Linked DNA regions of Homo sapiens. The protein of the gene in region 3 interacts with the protein of the main gene of each other region in a biochemical or structural test. Each region holds a gene or a part of one and is shown on either strand. Other genes may lie near its edges. The genes, in order: MAPK8IP3, SH3RF1 and MAP3K11.

Evidence for each region.
Region 1: the proteins of MAP3K11 (region 3) and MAPK8IP3 form a complex in vitro, tested with the Homo sapiens proteins (one study listed by BioGRID).
Region 2: the proteins of MAP3K11 (region 3) and SH3RF1 form a complex in vitro, tested with the Homo sapiens proteins (one study listed by BioGRID).

What each region holds. Positions count from the first base shown.
Region 1 is NC_000016.10:1,761,688-1,765,334, reverse strand, and holds part of MAPK8IP3 (C-Jun-amino-terminal kinase-interacting protein 3), read right to left. Parts: intron 2,985-3,647; coding exon 2,854-2,984; intron 2,661-2,853; coding exon 2,604-2,660; intron 2,500-2,603; coding exon 2,329-2,499; intron 1,679-2,328; coding exon 1,552-1,678; intron 1,221-1,551; coding exon 1,125-1,220; intron 1,035-1,124; coding exon 876-1,034; intron 323-875; coding exon 157-322; intron 1-156.
Region 2 is NC_000004.12:169,113,896-169,117,542, forward strand, and holds part of SH3RF1 (E3 ubiquitin-protein ligase SH3RF1), read right to left. Parts: coding exon 3,628-3,647; intron 2,736-3,627; coding exon 2,374-2,735; intron 1-2,373. UniProt on the Homo sapiens protein: Has E3 ubiquitin-protein ligase activity. In the absence of an external substrate, it can catalyze self-ubiquitination. Stimulates ubiquitination of potassium channel KCNJ1, enhancing it's dynamin-dependent and clathrin-independent endocytosis.
Region 3 is NC_000011.10:65,597,133-65,600,762, forward strand, and holds the end of MAP3K11 (mitogen-activated protein kinase kinase kinase 11), read right to left. Parts: intron 2,637-3,630; coding exon 2,262-2,636; intron 1,497-2,261; coding exon 1,159-1,496; 3' UTR 625-1,158; downstream 1-624. UniProt on the Homo sapiens protein: Activates the JUN N-terminal pathway. Required for serum-stimulated cell proliferation and for mitogen and cytokine activation of MAPK14 (p38), MAPK3 (ERK) and MAPK8 (JNK1) through phosphorylation and activation of MAP2K4/MKK4 and MAP2K7/MKK7.

The DNA.
Region 1 (3,647 bases), on a different chromosome or scaffold from region 3:
CACTTGACTGGGTGCTGCCCCTCCCACCGTCCACTGCCACATTCCCGTGTCCACAGGACACCCCGAGAAGGCAGCTGCTGTGTGGCAGGGCTTTTACTTAGCTTGCTAGTAAAAGGGAGTGGCGCCCGAGTGGAAACGCCCACTCCAGCTGCTCACCGGGGATGCTGGAGATGCACAGCACGTGCGCGTTGCAGACGGTGAACTGGTCCACCACCGTGCCCGGCTGGTTGGCGTCGATGATCACCACCTTGCTGGTGGTCAGGGTGCTGGTCAGGATCCACACCCGGCTGGAGGTGGCGTCCATTTCAGGGAGCTCCTTGGCCTGTTTCAGGGCACGGGATCAAGGTCAGAGCCCGAGCTTGAGGCTACCCGGTGGCAGCACAGGGCCATGGGGCTCCCAGAATCTGTCAGGATCCAGCCTTGACTACAGCTTGAGGGGACATGGCTGTCCTCCCCCAGGACCAGAACAATGCGGACTCAGGACTGCACTCTAAAGCACTCACAGACACGGTTTCGCCTCCACAGAAGAGGCCCCTGAGCTCCAAGAGGCCCAAGCTGGGCATAAAACTAAGCCTCCCACCACTGGGAGGCAAGCTCTGCCGCTCCTGGGCTCCTCTGTGCCTGCTGCCTGCCTGACCCCTGCAGCCCAGTGCAGGCCCACTCCAGGCCACCTGGGGGGTGAAAACTGAAAACCCAGAAGGCGGCTCAGTCCTGGTGAGGGAAGACACTGCTTCCCGCAGTCTAGGAGCCCCTGCGCTGCCCTGCTTCCGGGTGCTGTCCCCAGCTGTCCTGTGTCTCACTCCCAGCATGCTCTGCAGCTGAGCTGTCCTGAGACTAAGCCAGGGAGGGTGCCCGGTGGCCTCGGCCATGCTCACCTTCTTCTTCTCGGGAGACGTGTGGGCGCTCTTGGGCTCGCCGTCTCCTTCGCGGTCGCAGGTCAGGGGATCGCGGCCTGGCGCTGGCTTGACTCCATTCCCAGCGTCGTCCTCATTGGGCCTCCACCCGCTCAGGTTGACGCCCGCGGCACACCACAGCTGCAAGGGCAGGGCCGAGGTCGGGTGTCACCGGCACTCCCCAGCCTCCCGCTCGCCCAGCCAGCCTGAGCGGGGTCCTCGCGGGCTCACCTTCATGGTGGGGTCCTTCTCCACCAGAGGGCGGCAGTACACCGGCACCGGCACGTTCTTCATCCGCGTGTCCTCCTGGCCCCCGTTGGGACTCAGCTGCAGGGAGCAGGGAGGCGCCGTGGGCACGAACCCTGGCTCCTACCCATCCCTCCAGAAATCTGAGACAGGTAGGGCTGCCAGCTTCTGGCGGCACAGCCACTTCAAGACTGGAGGCAGGTGGGGGCGTGGGAGCCGCGGGGCTCCTTCTCCGACCCTCCAGACCCCTGCCCAGGAGGCTCACTAGGAACCTGCCAGGCCCCGCCCCACCCGCCGTCCTCTCCCACCCCCTAGCACTGCCCCGCCCTCTCCCCGCCCCACAGCGCCCCGCCCCTTACCCCCGCCCCGCCTCTGCGGGGCCCCGCCCGGTCCCCGCAGCGCCCGCCCGCACCTGCTTGTACTTGGCGGGCAGGCTCCAGCCGCAGGCCTGCAGACGGCCGTCGTCGTTACGCACGTGCTCACGCACCTGGCGGTACTGCTCGCGCTTCTGCTCTCGACGGGCGGAGGACGTGCAGTCGCTGAGTGGAAGAATGATGGGTGATGTCTCTGTCCAGGGTGAGCGGCCCCCACAGTGCCCCAGGCTTGTCCTGGGGGAGGTCACGGCAGGGAGGCCCGCCTGGGCCCATCCTCGCCTTTTCCCGGCCACCGGGTGCCCAGCTGGGAAGGGTGGCTTTCCCGGCACTGGGTGCCCAGCTGGGAAGGGTGGCTTTCCTGGCACCGGCTATGCCCCTGGGCTTGGAGGCCACAGCTGGCCCCTGCTCGACCCAGAGGCTGCTCTGCTGCCACAGTCACTGAGGGTTCCACAGACCGGGACCTGGAGTGCCGCCGGGGCACAGGCATGACCAGCGACTCCCTGCTGGACAGACGCCTGAAACGGCTCCTTGCTGCAGAGGCCACCGTGGAGCCCAGCACAGCCCCCTGACTGTTGGTGGGCACAGCCTCTGCCAAGGGACATCCTGAACCAAATACCGTGGAGCCAAAGCAGCCCAGCTCCCCGCTGCAGGGAGGGGCAGGCAGTGTGCAGGGAGAGGTCACGGCCCCTGGCATGTGGCCAGCAAGGTGGAGGCTGCCCTCAAAGTCCCGCTTCAGGGCCTGGAGGGGAGGAGCCTCAGGACAGGGCCTCCCCAACCCCATTGCAGGCCACAAGTGGGGGCTGCGGGACACTCACTCGTCAGGGAAGAATTCCAGGGGCCGGCTGCCTGCCGAGATCGGGCACATGGCATGGTTGCGGCGCTGGCTGAAGCCGGCAGTGGTGGGTGACTTGTAGTGGATGTTCACCGAGGGATAGGGGCGCTTGGCCGGAGGGGGGCTGGAGGAAGAGCTGAAGAGGCGGCTGAAGCTGCCAGAGGCACAGGGAGGTGAGGGGTGGGCAGAGGACCAGGGAACCTCCCTGCCCCTTCCCCTGCAGCTGCTGCCCACATCCCCCAGGGGCCCCCAGCTTACAACTGCCAGATGGTCGACTTCTTCTTCTCCTGGACGGATGGGTGCTCTCGGGACGCTCTGCAGGGGAGGGCACAGGGAGCAACCTGCTAGTGCCCTCACGCCTCCCTTACCTGCGACTCTCTGGCTCCCGCCAGGAAGCACCCAGCGCACTTCAGTCCCCCCAGAAGACAGGGAGGTGCAGAGGAGGGAGCCGCAGTCCTGCCGTCAGGGATGATCCCGCAGCCCCTCCTGGGGTGGCCGCAACTCCCACCTGATCATCTCAGTCCACCGCACAGCCTCCTGCAGCTCCATCAGCCGCTCCTTGTACTGGTTCCGCTCCATGAGCACACGGGCCATCTCCACCCGCGTGAAGCGGCGGCGCTGGGCCATGGGGATTTTGTCCTGCGGAGGGAGGGGCACAGAGGCTCAGCCAGCCCTCGGAGGCCGGGTGACACCTGCTTCCTCCTGGGGTGCCTACACGTATAGGTGGATCTCAGTGCCAATTTCCTTCAGATCCTCAGGCAAGAAGCGGTGTGGAGGGGTGTCGGCAAGCGGGGAGGGGAACCATACAAAAGGCATGCACCAGGACTTGGGTGCTGACAGGGGACCCGGCATCCTGCCAGGGCTGTGGTCCTGCCCAAGGGCCTGATTCTGACTCCATGTGGTCTCAGGAGTGGGGTGGCAGATGATGCCGCTGGGGTCAGGTGTCACCCAGGAGGGGTGGGAGAGCTGTCAGCCCAGAACAGCCGGCGAGTCCCCAGGAGCCCGCCTGGGCCCCCTGCCCGTGCCCACCCCAGCCCTGCATGTGAATTGTGGGATATACTGATTCTGTACAGAGACAGAAGCGCCGGTGAGTCCCCGGGAGGCACCCCGCATCCCCATGCCCCGAGTGTGAATAGTAGGATATACTGTGTGTGAATGGTGAATGGTGAATGGTGGCCGCCCAGCGTGTGAATGTGTGGGAATGATGGCTGCCCCACGTGTGAATGCGTATGAACAGTGGTCACCCGGCGTGTGAATGTGTGGGAACAGTGGCCGCCCCGCCTGGGAATGGTGAATGGTGGC
Region 2 (3,647 bases), on a different chromosome or scaffold from region 3:
ACCTCAGGGCACCATGTAGAAAGGAGATCTGCATTTTCTATGTGGGCCCTCAAAATAAAGAACAACGGTTGGAAGGTTGAGTTGAGTTACAGCTGTCTGAAGATGGCACAGGGCAGTCTTGGGCTAGGGCACTGCTTGGTCAATGGGGCACGCACCTAGGCAGAAGCCATGGTCATTTGTCAGGGATGGGTGCTCCACAGGATGACCAGTAAGGACCTGTACTAGATGGTGCCGTAACAGGTTAACTCAAACTTTGTGGTAAAAATCGGGTCCTAAAATCAAGGTGTGGCAGGGCTGGTTCCTTCTGGAGGCCACTGGGGAAGAATCTGTTCCCTTGTCTTTTCCAGATTCTAGAGGCTTCCTGTATTCCTTGACCTGTGGTCTCATTTCCCTATCATTCCTACCTCTGCTTCACCATCACGTCTCCTTCTCTGGCCCTAAGCTTCCTGCCTCCCTTTTAAGAACATCCTTGAGTTTACACTGGGCCCACCTGGATAATTCAGGCTAACCACCTTGTCAAAAGGCTATTAATTTAATAAAACCTGCAAGGTCCTTTTGGCCATGTAATGAAACATCTTTAAAAGTTCCAGGGATCAGGAGGTGGACATCCTTGGGGAGTCACTATTCTGTCTATCACAAGTACCTTTCAAGCCTTAGAGATTTAGTGAATTCTACATTGGAAGGGCCCAGCTGAAGAGTCCCTGTTCTTATCAGTGGCAAGGGCTCTGAGACACATTGTCATCAAGCCTTAAAATCTAAACCATAAAAATAATTATTTATAAATATATTAACAAAGTTGAACATGTTGGCTTGAGTGCAAGTTTAATGTAGTTAATTATAAACACTGAACAAATATCAATCTTTTTCAAAAACTCTCATGTTAACCGAACAATTAAATATTAACTTTTTAGTAGGCCATAAAGTTTATTTCCTTATAAACTGCTGTTTACAGGCTCCCTTAACCATTTAAATAGAACGACATACATTACCACTTAACCAGGTGGCTAAAAGTCTATGATCGCCCTCAAACTTCCCAGAACTGGTATAGAACTTCAGGGGAAATGTGTAAAATATTGAGGAAAAAGTAATAATGACAATAAAATTATCCAGATCCGTTACCATCTCTTCTTTTTCTTTTTACATTTAACAACTCTCAATTTCTCTTGCCTCCAATCACCTGTCTCTAAACCCAACCATCGGTTATTCTTTCCAATATAACTTTCCATTTATATTTTCTTTAAAATTCAGCCCCAAATGAGACATTAAAAAAAACCCCAAAAACTATGGATTTAGAAAATAATGTTTCCTTATATTTCAAGTCTTACCTCTCAAGGAACCATGCTGCTTAAGGTCAGATGTACTGGGCCATGGACCAGTACTAGCCTGTGGCCTGTGAGGAACCAGGCCGCACAGCAGGAGGTGAGCTGCAGGTGAGTGAGTGAGGCTTCATCTGTATTTACAGCCGCTCCCCATCACTTGCATTACTGCCTGAGCTCCGCCTCCTGTCAGATCAGCAGGGGCATTAGATTCTCATAGGAGCATGAACCCTATTGTGAACTGCACATGCGAGGGATGTAGGTTGCACACTCCTTATGAGAATCTAATGCCTGAGGATCTGTCACTGTCTGCCATCATGCCCAGGTGGGACCATCTAGTTGCAAGAAAACAAACTCAGGGCTCCCACTAATTCTACATTATGGTGAGTTCTATAATGATTTCATTATATAGTACACTGTAATAATAATAGAAATAAAGTGCACAGTTAATGTAATGAGCTTGAATCATTCTGAAACCATTTCCCCGCCACCACCCCTGGGTCCATGGAAAATCTGTCTTCAACGAAACTGGTCCATGGTGCCCAGGTGCCCAGAAGGTTGGGGACCACTGTTGTAGATAAAATAAATCCATAAGTAACACTTTTGATCAACAGTTTCATCCCCCTCACACATATATATTTTTAACAGAACTCTTATCAAGCAAGACTCACTGAGCAGGAAGACTTGAGGACAGCAAAATGATGAAAGAATGAGTAACTAAAGGGAAAAGGAAATTCCTCCACGAGACTGTAAGCTGCACAAGGAGGAGTGACTAAGTCTCATTCACTGTGGTCCCTCTAACATGCAGCACTGAGTCTGGCAAGTAGTGGGCGTTTAAACACAGAGAAACATGAGCTCTAGATAAGAGGATGGGGTGGTGCCTGCGTTTCTTCCCCACTCTACTCCTAGCACCTGGCATAGTGACTCACACGTAGGGAGCACCTGAGGGTTTGTTGAACAGTGAGTCCTCTCATTAGCTAAAAATGACAGACACAACATAAGAAGAAAAACAGGGAAGTAAGTAAAGCAGAGAAACAGTAAGTAAGTATGGTCTTACTTTGCTATCCTTGTCTGGTTTGGTTGCTGAACTGTTCCCACAAGCTGATGAAGCACTGTCAGGAGATGTGGGGAGTCCAGGGAGAACGGTCACTATCCGGCCACTGGGCTCAGCCTCCAGAGAAGCACTGGTGATGCTTGGGGAAGTCAGTGGAGCAGCTGCTGCACAGGCCAGAGGGGCACTGGCTCGACTGATACTGATGGCAGCAGTGTGCGTGGCTGAGCCTGGCATCAGAGGCGCAGGTTGTGGGGAGGCCAGCGAGTGATGGGACAGGCCCACAGATGCAGGGCTGAGGCCGGCGGCATTCTGTACCTGGATGGGTGTCACTGCTGCCGTGGGGCGTTCCTGGTTGTGCGCTGCAACTAGTAGATGGGAAGAGGGAACACAGCAAAATTCAACTATCTAATAGATGCTGCTCACCAAAACATGAGTCATTTCACTGCATCAGACCATGATGAAAGGCTGCTATTGTATTTATTACAATAAAGATGGGATGGACGGTGGCCTAAAAGCACTTAATCTTAGCTGGATCCCCAGACACTATCTATTGTCCTTCCAGGTCAGCCCTTGAGTCTACTGAGTGCCTGGAAGCTCAGTTTTGACCCAAGTCCCTTTACTTAGGAGACAGCCTCTCCACAGTGTTAGAGACACTGAGCCAGTTCTTGATGGTATTCTACAGTGTCAAGCGATGTCTCCCTCTAGTCCTTTTCCTATTATTCATTCCCTTTTCTTATGAATCATTTTCCTTTTTTCTGTTTTTCTGATAGAGTTCACAAGCCTTTAGTTTACCCCTCATCCCATTAGTTACCCAAGACTCTTGGGAAGGTTTTCAGTGCTACAGAACTAAGAAAGCTGTTTAAGATCCCATAGGGTCCAAGGTAGACTTGTGCTTAAGTTAATCAGAAATGATCAGCACACCCGTTAGTAGAGTATCACGCAATGTCACATGGATGGTAGTAGTGAGATTTGAGATCATATGATCTCAACTATAGAAGTCAAAATTTCAAGTACTATTGACATTCTTAGGATCAGCCTAATTTCTTTCAGACTTTAGATCTATCCATCAGGCTTGAAGTAATACGCAGGGCACGCTTAGCCCAAATAAGCAGATACAAGGTGCCACTGAGTAGACTTTGCCTAATGTTGTTCATTATTAAAATTACATCTACATTTCTCAACATCTGTCATAAAAGATCTACTATTAGGCAGGTAAGCCCTTTATCCTGATATGTTCTGGCCTGGGTTCCTCCTTACCTGTCCTCACAGCATTGCGG
Region 3 (3,630 bases):
GCCACCACGCCTGGTTAATTTTTGTATATATATATATTTTTTTCAGTAGAGACGGGGTTTCACCATATTGGCCAGGCTGGTCTCAAAATCCTGACCTTGTGATCTGTCCGTCTCGGCCTCCCAAAGTGCTGGGATTACAGGCGTGAGCCACCATGCCCGGCCTATGGTTTTTTGTTTTTTTTTTTTTTGAGACGGAGTCTTGCTCTGTTGCCCAGGCTGGAGTGCAGTGGCGTGATTTTGGCTCACTGCAACCTCCACCTTCCAGGTTCAAGCAATTCTCCTGCCTCAGCCTCCAGAGTAGCTGGGACTACAGGCATGCACCACCACACCTGGCTAATTTTTGTATTTTTAGTAGAGATGGGGTTTCACCATGTGGCCAGGTTGAACTCCTGACCTCATGTGATCCGCCGGCCTCGGCCTCCCAAACTGCTGTGATGACAGGAGTGAGCCACTGCACCTGGCCGAGAAGAGCCTTGAATGACTGACCAAGGCTGGTGGATTTGGTCCCAGGAGAGGCATGCAGTACAAGGCATCCAACTGCCTATTGTTGGGGCATCAGGACACCAGGGTTGTATGATAGGTTGGGTCACCTGGTTACCTCCAAGAAAGGTGACAGGCTACATGTGGGGAGACAGCTTTTGAGTTTATTTGGCTTCTGGCTTCACTGGATCCCGAGGCTAAGACTCCAACCCTGGCTGGGGCAGCAGGAAGGCATCCAGAGAGCCCTGGCCCCAGATGACCCCCAGGGCAGGAGGTCCATGCTCTAAGCCCTAGGGCAGGGGCCGCAGTAGCAGGACTTGGTCAAAAGTGCTGGTGACAGCTGAGGCCGGCCCCTCTTCCCTGCACCTCCCCTCCTCCCTGCATCACCCCAGCAGGCAATTCCCTGAGACAGGCTCTGGTCCTCCCAACCAGCTGGGTACAGTGTTGGGCCCCAGTAGGGCAGGTGAGCTGGGGGGACCTACAGGTTTCAGATGTGGGGGCGCAGGTCCCCCTTCCAGTGTGAAGGCTTCCTGTGCAGTGTAGTGTTCCTGACCCCCAAAGGGGGGTGGGGTCCCTGGGGAAACTGAGGCAGCTGCAGAGGCTGACCCAGCTCCTGTTCCAGTGTATGCTGTGACTCCTCCTAAGGCAGCTGGAGCTCGGGGGAGTGGCCTGGCCCACTCAAGGCCCCGCTTCCGGCACCCACGGGGCCTGGGCACCCATGTCTTTGGTCTGTGCCCTGCAGTCCTGGGGGCCCCCCTGGAAGGGGTTGGCAGGTGGGGAGTCCCAGAAGGGGTCTGAGTCCGGGAACAAGGTCCAGGGTGCTCGGCGGGGTGCAGGCTGTGGTGATGGCAGGGGAGAAGGCCGTGGCCCAGCTGACACAAAGCTCCAGGGATCAATGCGGCTGCGAAGGGGCGAGGGCCGAGGTCGGCTGATGAGGCCCAGGGGTGGTGAACGTGGGGTGCCTGGGGTGCCAGGAGCAGAGCGTGATGTCCCCGGTGGGGGTGAGACAGTGCCTCCTGTGAGGATATAGGAGGGGCACAGGGTCAAGCAACCCCCAACTGCTGAGGTCCCCAAGACACTGTCCTGCTCTGGGCCTCAGTTTCCCCATGTGCACAGTGACCTACTTGACTCAACTTCCACCGCCCTTCCTGCTCCGTGGTGCCTCTGTTTTTTGTAATAGTTAGGAGTGAGGCCTCTGCAGCAGGCTGGCCTGGATGTGGATCCCGGCCCTGCCACTTACTAGCTGTGGGAGCTGTGGGTCCCTTAATCTCTGTGCCTTAAATTTCCTCATCTAAAAATGGGCATCCAGGAGCGCTTAGTTCTCTGGTTGTTATGACTAAATGAGACCATCTCGGGAAAGCCTTGCAAACAGTACTTGGCACAAGTAAGGAGCCAGGAGTTTGCTACGATTATGATTACATGTATGCTGTGTCGCCCAGGCTGGAGTCCAGTGTCATGATCACCGCTCACTGCAGCCTCAACCTTTCAAGGCTCACGTGATCCTCCCAGAGTGCTGGGATCACAGGCGTGCACCACTGCCTGGCCCGATTACTTCTTTTATTTCACAGCAGGCATCGCCCCCACCTGCCTGGACCACCTGATAGCTGAACTTAGAACTCTGCTCCCTACATGCGTCTTCAGTACCCCGAATGCCTGGTTCAGGGTCCAGCTGATGACTGTGGTCTCGGCCTTGCCTCCTTGCATGTCCCCACCAGCCACTCCTCCCTCCCTGGGAACCCCCGTCTCCCATATGTGAAGCAGGCCGGCTTCAGGCCACTCACCGCGGGGCTCCTCCTCACGTCGGGGGCTCTTGGCTGACCGCTGGCCCACAGGGATACCCAGGTCCAGCAACAGGGGTGCAGGAGTGGGCGGGGAGTCGGGCGTCTTGAGCGAGAAGCAGATGAGCGGGGAAGGGGGCGGCTCGGTCGGGCAGGGCGCGGGCGTTGGCGTGGGGGGTGTTGTCGGGGACTCCCCGCGCTCGCGTCCTGGGCCTCCCGGCGGCTGCAGGTCGCGGCCAAGGCCCAGCGAGGCGAGCAGGGCGGTGCCGCGCAGCAGCGCCCGCTGGATCAGCTTGGGCGTCCCAGAGCTGCTACCGCGCTCTGCGGGGACAGGCCTCTTGGGCTCCTCGGGCTCCAGGCTAGGCCGCGGGGGGTTACCTGCGGGCAGAGGCGGCACAGGTGAGGGTGTGGCTGGTGCATATTCCGGGTGAGGGCCCAAGACCTCTCCGTGGTCTTGGAACAAGGACTGAGTTCTGCCCTCTACTAGCATCTTCCCTGGTCCCACAGGTCCCATGGCCTCCCCATCACATACCCACATTCTGGCCTTTCACAAGATGGGCACTGGGAGGGGAGGGCAGTGCAGGTGGAGGAAGCGGCAGCAAAGCCCAATGGCAGCCAGCGACCCCAGACCCGAAAGATGGATGGGCAGTCCCAGTGGAGGCAGGCTGGGGCCAGGTCACAGTGGGCCTCTGTGGCCTGCCAGGGGCAACCTCCAGGCCCAGGGGCATGGCAGGTCCCACTGACTGGGACCGGCGCCCTGTGCTCTGTGCCCACCAGCTTCCTGGCTTGGCAGCCCTGCCCCTTCTGCCCACCCACCCCCGCTCCAGCTGTAGCTTATAAGATGCACACAGTCAACTCTAAGGTACATGGCAGCCCTGAGGGCATAAATCCCTGTCTCTATTCTAGAAAGGAGGAAAATGAGGTTCAGAGGGGTCAGTACCTTGCCCAAGGTCACAGCTAATTTACAGAGTATGTATTTGTGCCAGGCCTGAGCTGAATGGCATAGGGGCATTATGTTGTCTGATTCTCATGCCCCAGGGGTTCCAGGCTCAGAGAGGTTGAGGGCTTGTGCGGAGCTGTACAGCCAGTGAAAGGTGGAGCCGGCCTCACCCCAGGCAAGGGCAGTAGAACCTTTGCTCTCCACCATTTCCCAGCCAGACTCTGCCCTAGATTTCAAGACACTAGTGTCCTACCTTCCAGTCTAGGGTTGGCCTGACTCCATTCTAGACCACTTGGGCAGGGATGGGGAACCCCTCATTAAGGACAAGGGACTCTAGGATGGGCTCTCACAAGCCCTGATTTTGTCAGATCCCTCCTTGGCTCTAGAAACTGCTGTGGCTCTCCACTGTCACTAGGAGAAAGTCTGGCCTCC